Homo sapiens: one gene and its partner. The protein of the gene in region 1 purifies or fractionates together with the protein of each later gene. This does not show direct contact. Each region holds a gene or a part of one and is shown on either strand. Other genes may lie near its edges.

Region 1 (4,048 bases):
TTCCAAATTGATCTCAAACGGTTTTCCAGCTTGTTGGGGGGTGAGGAAAAATAAATGGAGAATATATTTACATGCCCTCCTATTCTTTTCTTTTAGAAGTCTCATAAATAGTAAATTTCCTATTTTAAAAGCCAGGACATTTTCAACCTCAAATATTTGGAATTTTTAAAGGCCATATTAAAATGGATTACTTCTGCTATCTATAATAAATATGAATTGTGAAAATAAATTGTTTGAGGGAAAATAATGTAGGTTTTAAAAAGTTCCATTTAGAAAGGGAAGAATGAGACGTAATAGAAAATAACGATGTAGTGTAGTGACTTAGCATTTTATTTCGTCTATATAACTAGGCTTAATTTTAACACCTTAATTTTAACATTAAAGATGGCACGTCAGACACACAGATAAGAAATCAATGTTCTGAAATTAATATCCTACTTACATTAAACATCCCTATCAGGAAGACACAGAGAGTAGAAGCATTTTGCACTAGACTTAGGAATAACACTTCCAGTTCCAAGGAAGTGAAGAAGGGGGAACATGTTTGGCATCGGAGGCTGTGTTTTTGTTTGCTTGCTTGTTTTTCTTCTAATGCCAGAACAAAATACCCCACTCACGTTCATAGTACCCCAGGAAATGTGCAAATCCGGAAAGCCACAGAAGCCACAGCCGAAGGCAAGAAAAGATGACTTGACGCCCTGCGAAGGTTACGTTCAGGTGGTTTTTAGAGGAACGTAATCCAGCTGTTTCTTTCTAACCATTTTGCAGGGAACAGAAGTTCGTGTTTGCTCTCCAGCAGGATTCAGATGCACACGCCCAGTATGGGCCGCGCAAGGTGGAGTGAGCAGCTGCGGATCGCTCCCCACTCCCACCTGGCTCTAGGAGGGCCCTGCGGACTTGGCCAGGGAACTGGGCGTGGGCGATACTAAAAAAACTGGTGAGGTCCCCTCTCCGCCCAAAGGGGCAGCCAGCGATGTCAGCCTAGAGCCCTCTGCCACCGCCTGATACCGCAGCAGCGCCGACGCGGCCGACAGGTGCCCGCCCAGCACCGCGCCCTTGGTGGGAGCGCAGCCGTTGGCGCAGTCCTCCTCCTGATGCTGCTGCTGTTGCTGCAAAATTGTCCGACAGGCTTGACGGTCGCTGGAGCAGGGGGCAGTAGCTCCACGCGGTCGGGGACAAACTCTGCGCAGCCCCTGTACCCGCTCCCCTGACCCCTTGCATGATACTCTCAATGCTGAAAGAGATGCATCCGCCTCCCGGTGGCGACGCCAGACCCTTGCCCTCCTCCCAAGGCTGAGGACCAAGTGAGGGCTGCAGCACGGGAAGGGTGCCGGGGGTCGCCAGGTCCGCGCCTTCTGCTTTCTTCGGTGCCCCGGCATAGGCGGGGGCCGAGAGCAGTAGGTAGCGAGGAGGATGCGGGTGCAGCAGAGCGTAAGGGCGTCTCCCGGGGGCGGTGTTGGGGTAGGCCCCCGGGACTGGCTGCGGCAGGGCAGGGGCCCCAAGCAGAGGGCCTGGGCGGGGGTTGTGCAGGGCGGCGTGTGCAGCAGGTAGAGGGAAGGGGTGGGGCAGGTGGGCTCCCGGGGTCAGTTGGTGGCGCTTGAAACGCTTCCTACGCCGGAGAAAGCTGCCATTGTCGAACATGTCCTGGGAGGCGGGGTCCAGGCTCCAGTAGGTGCCCTTGCCTGGGTGGCCCGGCTCGCGGGGGATCTTGACGAAGCAGTCGTTCAGCGAGAGGTTGTGGCGGATGCTGTTCTGCCAGGCGGGGAACTTGCGGCGGTAGTAGGGGAAGCGGCCACTAATGAAGGCGCAGATGCCGCTGAGCGTGAGGCGCTTGTGCGGGCTTTGCAGGATGGCCATGGTGATGAGCGCGATGTACGAGTAGGGGGGCTTTGCCGGCTGCCGGGCATCTTCAGAGGCCGCCGCAGACCTTGGCGGTGCCCTGAACTCGGTGCCAAACTCTGAGGGGTCGCTCGGGCCGCCGCCCTCGATGTGCTCTCGGGGAAGCGCAACCCCGCCCCACCGGGCCACCTGCAGCCCCGGCTGGAGCGACTGCTCTAGGAACTTCTGGCTCGCCTCCTCCTCCTCGTCTTCCACCTCGTCTTCATCTTCCTCCTCTCCCAGGACATCGATTTTACCGTCTTCCCCATCGGAGTCCCGGAGGCTGCGCTGCGGTGTGGAGCGAGGGCGCTCAGCTCTTGGCAGGTTCATGGCGGAGCAGGTGCTTCAGTCGCAGGGGATGTGGCGGCCGATCACCTGGCCCGGGGCGGGCTGAGCTGGAAGCCTGGGATGAATGTTGCAAGAAGCAGGAACGCTAGTGGTTACCCTTTGGGATGTTTTCCTCTGCTTGTTTCTACTCCTTTGCAACAACGTCCGGCAAAGATGCCTTTGCCTTTTATAAAAGCTTCTTCAAGACCATGTGTGGTGGACTCCCCCCTTTATAACCCTTCTTCCCCTACCTCGGAGCGGTGCCACTTCCTCCTAACGTAGTCCAGGGATGATGGTCTTCTGGGCAAACACCGTCCGGAGAAAAGCCCAGCCCCCTCCTCCTCGCACCCACCTGCCACCAAGGAAGATGCTCTACTCATCCGGTGCAGCCAGACAAGTAGGCAAGCCTTTGCACGGGTTCTGTTAAGGCGCATTTAAACCCGCGCAAATAAAAGCGAGGTAGGAAAGTAGGATACTCAACATTCTACGACCATCTCGACATGCAGCCTTCCCTCCTGGAGAAAAGAAATGGTGGGGCAGGAGGCTGAAATGTACACGGTTGTTTGTAAAGGAATGTGTAACCGTAAAAGTATGTTTTTGTGTTTCACAGCTGGTAATCACCCATTTTCATTGGTAGAGTCTGTCCTTACCCAGAATGGTGAGCTGAATTATATTTAAGGTTCTGACAATATTCCCAGGCTTCAGGGGGGTGTTGCTTTGCTCCTTCTACCTTCCTTCCCACCTCCCCAAGATGCTCTCCCCTGACTCAAATTTTCAGAAAAGGTTCAAATGTCCCAGCACTAAATTGTGTAAGTTTATTCAGGGAAGGCAGGAGAGCTCACACGGAGTCCTCTGTCCCCTTGTAGCAATGGTTCTCCAATTTCTTTGAATATTTAACCACAGAAATACATTTTATATCACAATCTTACACATACAGACATAATACATAACTAAGATGGCTTTCACGAAACAATATACTTACACTATAGTGATCACTGATATTTCCTTTTAAAAAAAAATGGCCATAACCAACTAAATTGATTTCACACATACCAGTATGGGCCCAGTTTGAAAAATCCTGTTCTTACAAAGTGGCCCCACATACAAGAAATGCACCCACTCTATAAGGGCTTCTCTCTCTCCCTTTCCTCCTTCCTTTCTTCATCCTTTATAACCAATTCATTTTTAGAGACAGGGTCTATGTTGCACAGGCTGGCTTTGAATTCCTGGGCTCAAGTGATCCTCCCGCCTCAGCCTCCTGAGTAGGTGGGACTACAGGCGTGCCACTATGCCTGGCTCTGGCTCTTCATTCTTTTTTTCCTTTTTTTTTTTTTTTTTTTTTTTGAGACGTTGTCGCTCTGTCGCCCAGGCTGGAGTGCAGTGACACAATCTCGGACCACTGCAAGCTCCGCCTCCCGGGTTCACGCCATTCTCCCGCCTCAGCCTCCCGAGTAGCTGGGACCACAGGCGCCCGCCACTACGCCCGGCTAATTTTTTTGTATTTTTAGTAGAGACGGGGTTTCACCGTGTTAGCCAGGATGGTCTCGATGTCCTGACCTCATGATCCGCTTGCCTCAGCCTCCCAAAGTGCTGGGATTACAGGCGTGAGCCACCGCGCCCGGCCTCTTCATTCTTTCAGAAATGTCAACATTAAGTGCTTTTACTGTAATAAAACTTGGGACTTCAATGAGGCAAGAAGGGGCTGCAGTGTTGCCTTTAAATCAGTGGGTCCTCATTCACTGTCTGCACTGGGGAGGGGCAATATGACAGCACAACTGTTCATCTCACTCGCTCCACATCCTTAGAAGTAACACGATTTTTAGATTGGCTTCATGAAAATTAG
Region 2 (4,206 bases), on another chromosome or scaffold:
TTTGAAAACAAGACAAAGATGTCCACTATCCATTCAACAATTTACTGGAGGTTCCAAAAAGTGCCATATCATCAGGAAAATACAATAGGTTTAAAATTTGGAAAGAAATAAAACTGTCATTATTCACAGATGACATTGTTCTGTACATAGAAAAATGCAGAAGAATAAAATCATTACAGTTAATAAGCAAATTTAGTCAACTTACTAGATACAATGAAAACCAATGGCATTTCTGTATAATGAATAGCAATTCTGTATAATGAATGGCATTATACAGAATGGCAATTCTGTATAACGAATAATTAGAATATGAGATTTCAAATGTCATTAAAAACAGTTCCAAAAACATCAAATATTTAGGAATAAATCTAATCAAGATGTGCTAGAGTACTTCACAAAAATTATAAAACATCACTCAGAGAAATTCAAGACTGCAGTAAATGGAGAAAAATTTTCTTTCCATGCATTGGAAGACATTTTTTTTTTTTTTTGAGTCGGAGCCTCGCTCTGTCACCCAGGCTGCAGTGGAGTGGCACAGTCTCTGCTCACTGCAACCTCCACTTCCCAGGTTCAAGCAATTCTCCTGCCTCAGCCTCCTGAGTAGCTGCGATTACGGGCGCCTGCCACGACGCTGGATAAAGAAAATGTGGTACATATACACCACGGAATACTATGCAGCCATAAAAAAGAATGAGTTCATGTCCTTTGAAGGGACATGTGTCAGCAAGCTAACACAGGAACAGAAAACCAAACACCACGTGTCCTCACTCATAAGTGGGAGTTGAACAATGAGAACACATGGACGCGGGGAGAAGAACATCACACAGTGGGGCCTGTCAGGGGTTGGGGGGCTAGGGGAGGGATAGCATTAGAGAAATACCTAAGGTAGATGACGGGTCAATGGGTGCAGCAAACAACCATGGCATGTGTCTTCCTATGTAACAAACCTGCACGTTCTGCCCATGTATCCCGGAACTTAAAGTATAATTTTAAGAAAAGGAATATTATCGTAATGGCATTGGGTGAGTCAAAGATGTTTCTTAAAATAATAAAAAGCACTATCCATAAATAATACACTAATTAATAAAATTAAGAGAATCTGTTCATCTACAACACATTATTGAGATCGTGTAAAAGCAAAAAAGATTTATAGAAGATACTAAAATTGTATATGTATTTTTGTATATGTACATATACGCCTGTGTGCCTGTGCGTATAACTCAAATACAGAATATATGGAAACTACAAATCCATTTTTAAAATACAAACATCTCAGTAAAAGCTGGGGGAAAATACCTGAAAAGGAACTTCATAAAAGGCATAGTTAAATGACCAATAAACACATAAAATGGTGCTAAAAAAAAAAAAAAAAAGAAAACAATAAATAGCTGGGTGTGGTGGCACTGCAATCCAGTCTGGGTGACAGAGGGAGACCTCATCTCAAAAGACAAACAAAAATCAATAAATAAAAACAATTTCTTAAAAAGGTGCTCGATCTCATTAATCAGCAGAGAAATGCGAGTGTAGACACAAGGAGAGATCACTGCACACCCATCAGAGTGGCTGGAATGAAAGACTAACTGTACTGCGAGTGTTCGAATGTGGCACAGCTGGAACCTTCGAATATTTCTGGACTCCCATTCCCACACAGACACCTGAGGCTGTGGCTGAAAGGTCAGATAGAATCCCAGGAAAGAGCTCCTTCAGAATTGCGATCAACCAACCGAGGAAAAGCACCCCAACCTGGGTCGAGACAGAGTTCCCAAGGTCACGTGGCCTCCTTCATGGCTGACACAGAGCTCCCTGAGTCCCACCATAGGCTTAGAGAATCCAAGGAACATTACCCCACTCCCCGGCGGCACCGGGAGAGAGCACCTACAGATAATAATTTTAAAAACCCAGCACCAAGAGAAAGCATCCAGTAAGCGTCCACAACGGGGATAAGCAGAACCAAAGAAAAGCCAACACATTGTAACTGAGAGCGAGCAACATCCGAGGACAAATGCGCCTCACGGCCGACATCAGTACCCAAGGAAGAGTCCACCAGAGGTTGAGATAAAGCCCCCGACAGTGACCCCACAGGGCTACGATCATGTGTCCGGGGCACAGCCACCCCCACCACGTTCCATGAGCACAGATAGTGACCCCAGGGCAGAGTCCCCCCTCAGGACAGCGACTGAGCGGGAAAGAAACACCGCCGCACCCGAGGCCGACACAGGCAACCAAGGCATGGCCCCCACCCCCCGGGCTCAGGTCATTTCAGCAGGAAAAGTCGCCTTTTCCATCACCGACAGGGAGCCCCCAACAAGAGCCCCCAAGAAAAGCCCCCTGGCCCCACAACATAGCCGAGACGGGGTGCCCAAGGAAAACGCTCCCCCGCGGCTGACACAGGCGCCCATGGCGGTGTCCCCAGAGCTAAGCCACTTCCCCAAGGGAGCCCTCCCACACACCGGACAGAGAACACCACAGAAAAGACTCTTTCTGAGGAAAAAGGACACTTTCCAGGGCGAAATTAAAGCATCCAGGGAAAAACTGCCCACTCACAGTCCTGAAGTCCTGACCTTGCTGGAGGAGAGACGGCGGCACCTCACAAAATGGCAGTGAAGTTGTGGCGCCTCCCCACTGGTGGCACTTTCTAGAAACCTGCCCTCTGGGAGTTGTGGGAAATGTGCCCCCTAGGGCACCTGGGAGTGATGTGCATGGGGAGGCGTCTCACCAGAAGCACCGATCCCGTTTGGCCCAAGGGGGATGGGAGGAAGGGAAGTAGCCAGCCACAGCGTGCCTGCCCCAGCCGAACACTGGGAACCTGTTGGGGGCGCCAGAGTGCTGAGGAGAAGCCTCGTGCCCCAGAGAACCAGGAAGCGCAGCCCTCCCCTTCGCTGACTCTGGCGCCCTCTACAGGCGACCTTCAGTAACAACTGCACAGCAACGTATGCGGAGGAATGCAGAACCTTCTCACCCAGCGGGATGAAATCGCCTGGGTAACATAGTGAGACCCCGGCTCTACAAAGCAACCAACTAATCAAAAAAGAAAGAAAGAAAGAAAGAAACACACAAATTAGCTGGGCCTAGTGGCCTCGCACCTGTGGTCCCAACTACTCGGGAAGTTGAGGTGGGAGGATGGCTTGAACCCGGGAGGTGGAGGTAGCAGTGAGCCACTGCACTCCAGCCCAGGCGGTAGAGGAGACCCCATCTCAGAAAAAAAAAAAAAAAGAAAGAAAGAAGGAAAAGAAAAGAAAAAGAAAAAGAACAACAACAAACTGCAATTTTCATTTGAGGGGGTTGTGTTTTAAAGTCAACCCCGACCCGCCACAGTGGCTCACGCCTGTAATCTCAACACTTTGGGAGGCCGAAGGGGCTGGACCACCTGAGGTCAGGAGTTCGAGACCAGTCTGTCTGACCAACATGGTGAATCCCGTCTCTGCTAAAAATACAGAAAATTACCGGGCGTGGTGGCATGCACCTATAATCCCACCAGCTACTTGGGAGGCTGAGGCTGGAGAATCGCTTGAACCGGGCAGGCAGAATTTGCAGTGAGCTGAGATCATGCCACTGCACTCCAGCCTGGGTAACAGAGTGAGACTCTGTCTAAAAATAAAAATCAATCAATCAATAAATAAAGTCAACCTCTATCTGTTAAAGGTAACCATTATTGTTAATTGATAAGAAAAATGAGGGCCCCAGTGCGGTCGCTCACGTCTGTAATCCCAGCAATTTGGGAGACCAAGAGGGGTGGATTCCTTGAGCCCAGGAGTTCAAGAGCAGCCTGGGCAGCATGGTGAAACCCCATCTTAACACAAAATACAAAAATTAGCTGAGCGTGTAACTGTGGTCCCAGCTGCTCGGGAGGCTTGACACCAGGAGGTTGAGGCTGCATTGACCTTTGTTCGCACCATTGCACTATAGCCTGGGTGACAGAGTAAGACTGTCTACAAAAAAAAAGAAAGAGAGAAAGAAAGAGAGAAAGAAAGAAAGAAAGAGAAAGAAAAAAGAAGGAAGGAAGGAAAGAAAGAACGAAAGAAAGAAAGGAAGGAAGAAAGGAAGGATGGAAGAAAGAAGGGAAGAAAGGAAGAAAGGAAGGATGGAAGAAAGAAGGGAAGAAAGGAAGAAAGAAAGAGAGAAAGAAAGAAAGGATGGAAGGAGGGGAAACCTTATTATATTGCATCTATTAATCATTTTAATCTGGAACTTTGTATATTTTTCCAC

The links. Proteins that work in one complex are often made in the same cells at the same time.
Region 2: the proteins of FOXD4L1 (region 1) and CT45A2 purify together in Homo sapiens (affinity purification with mass spectrometry, with the first as the bait; one large-scale study listed by BioGRID). This does not show direct contact.

What each region holds. Positions count from the first base shown.
Region 1 is NC_000002.12:113,497,417-113,501,464, reverse strand, and holds FOXD4L1 (forkhead box protein D4-like 1), read right to left. Parts: upstream 2,801-4,048; 5' UTR 2,209-2,800; coding exon 982-2,208; 3' UTR 315-981; downstream 1-314.
Region 2 is NC_000023.11:135,817,213-135,821,418, forward strand, and holds the start of CT45A2 (cancer/testis antigen family 45 member A2), read right to left. Parts: upstream 2,801-4,206; 5' UTR 2,562-2,800; exon of another isoform or gene 2,545-2,561; intron 1-2,544.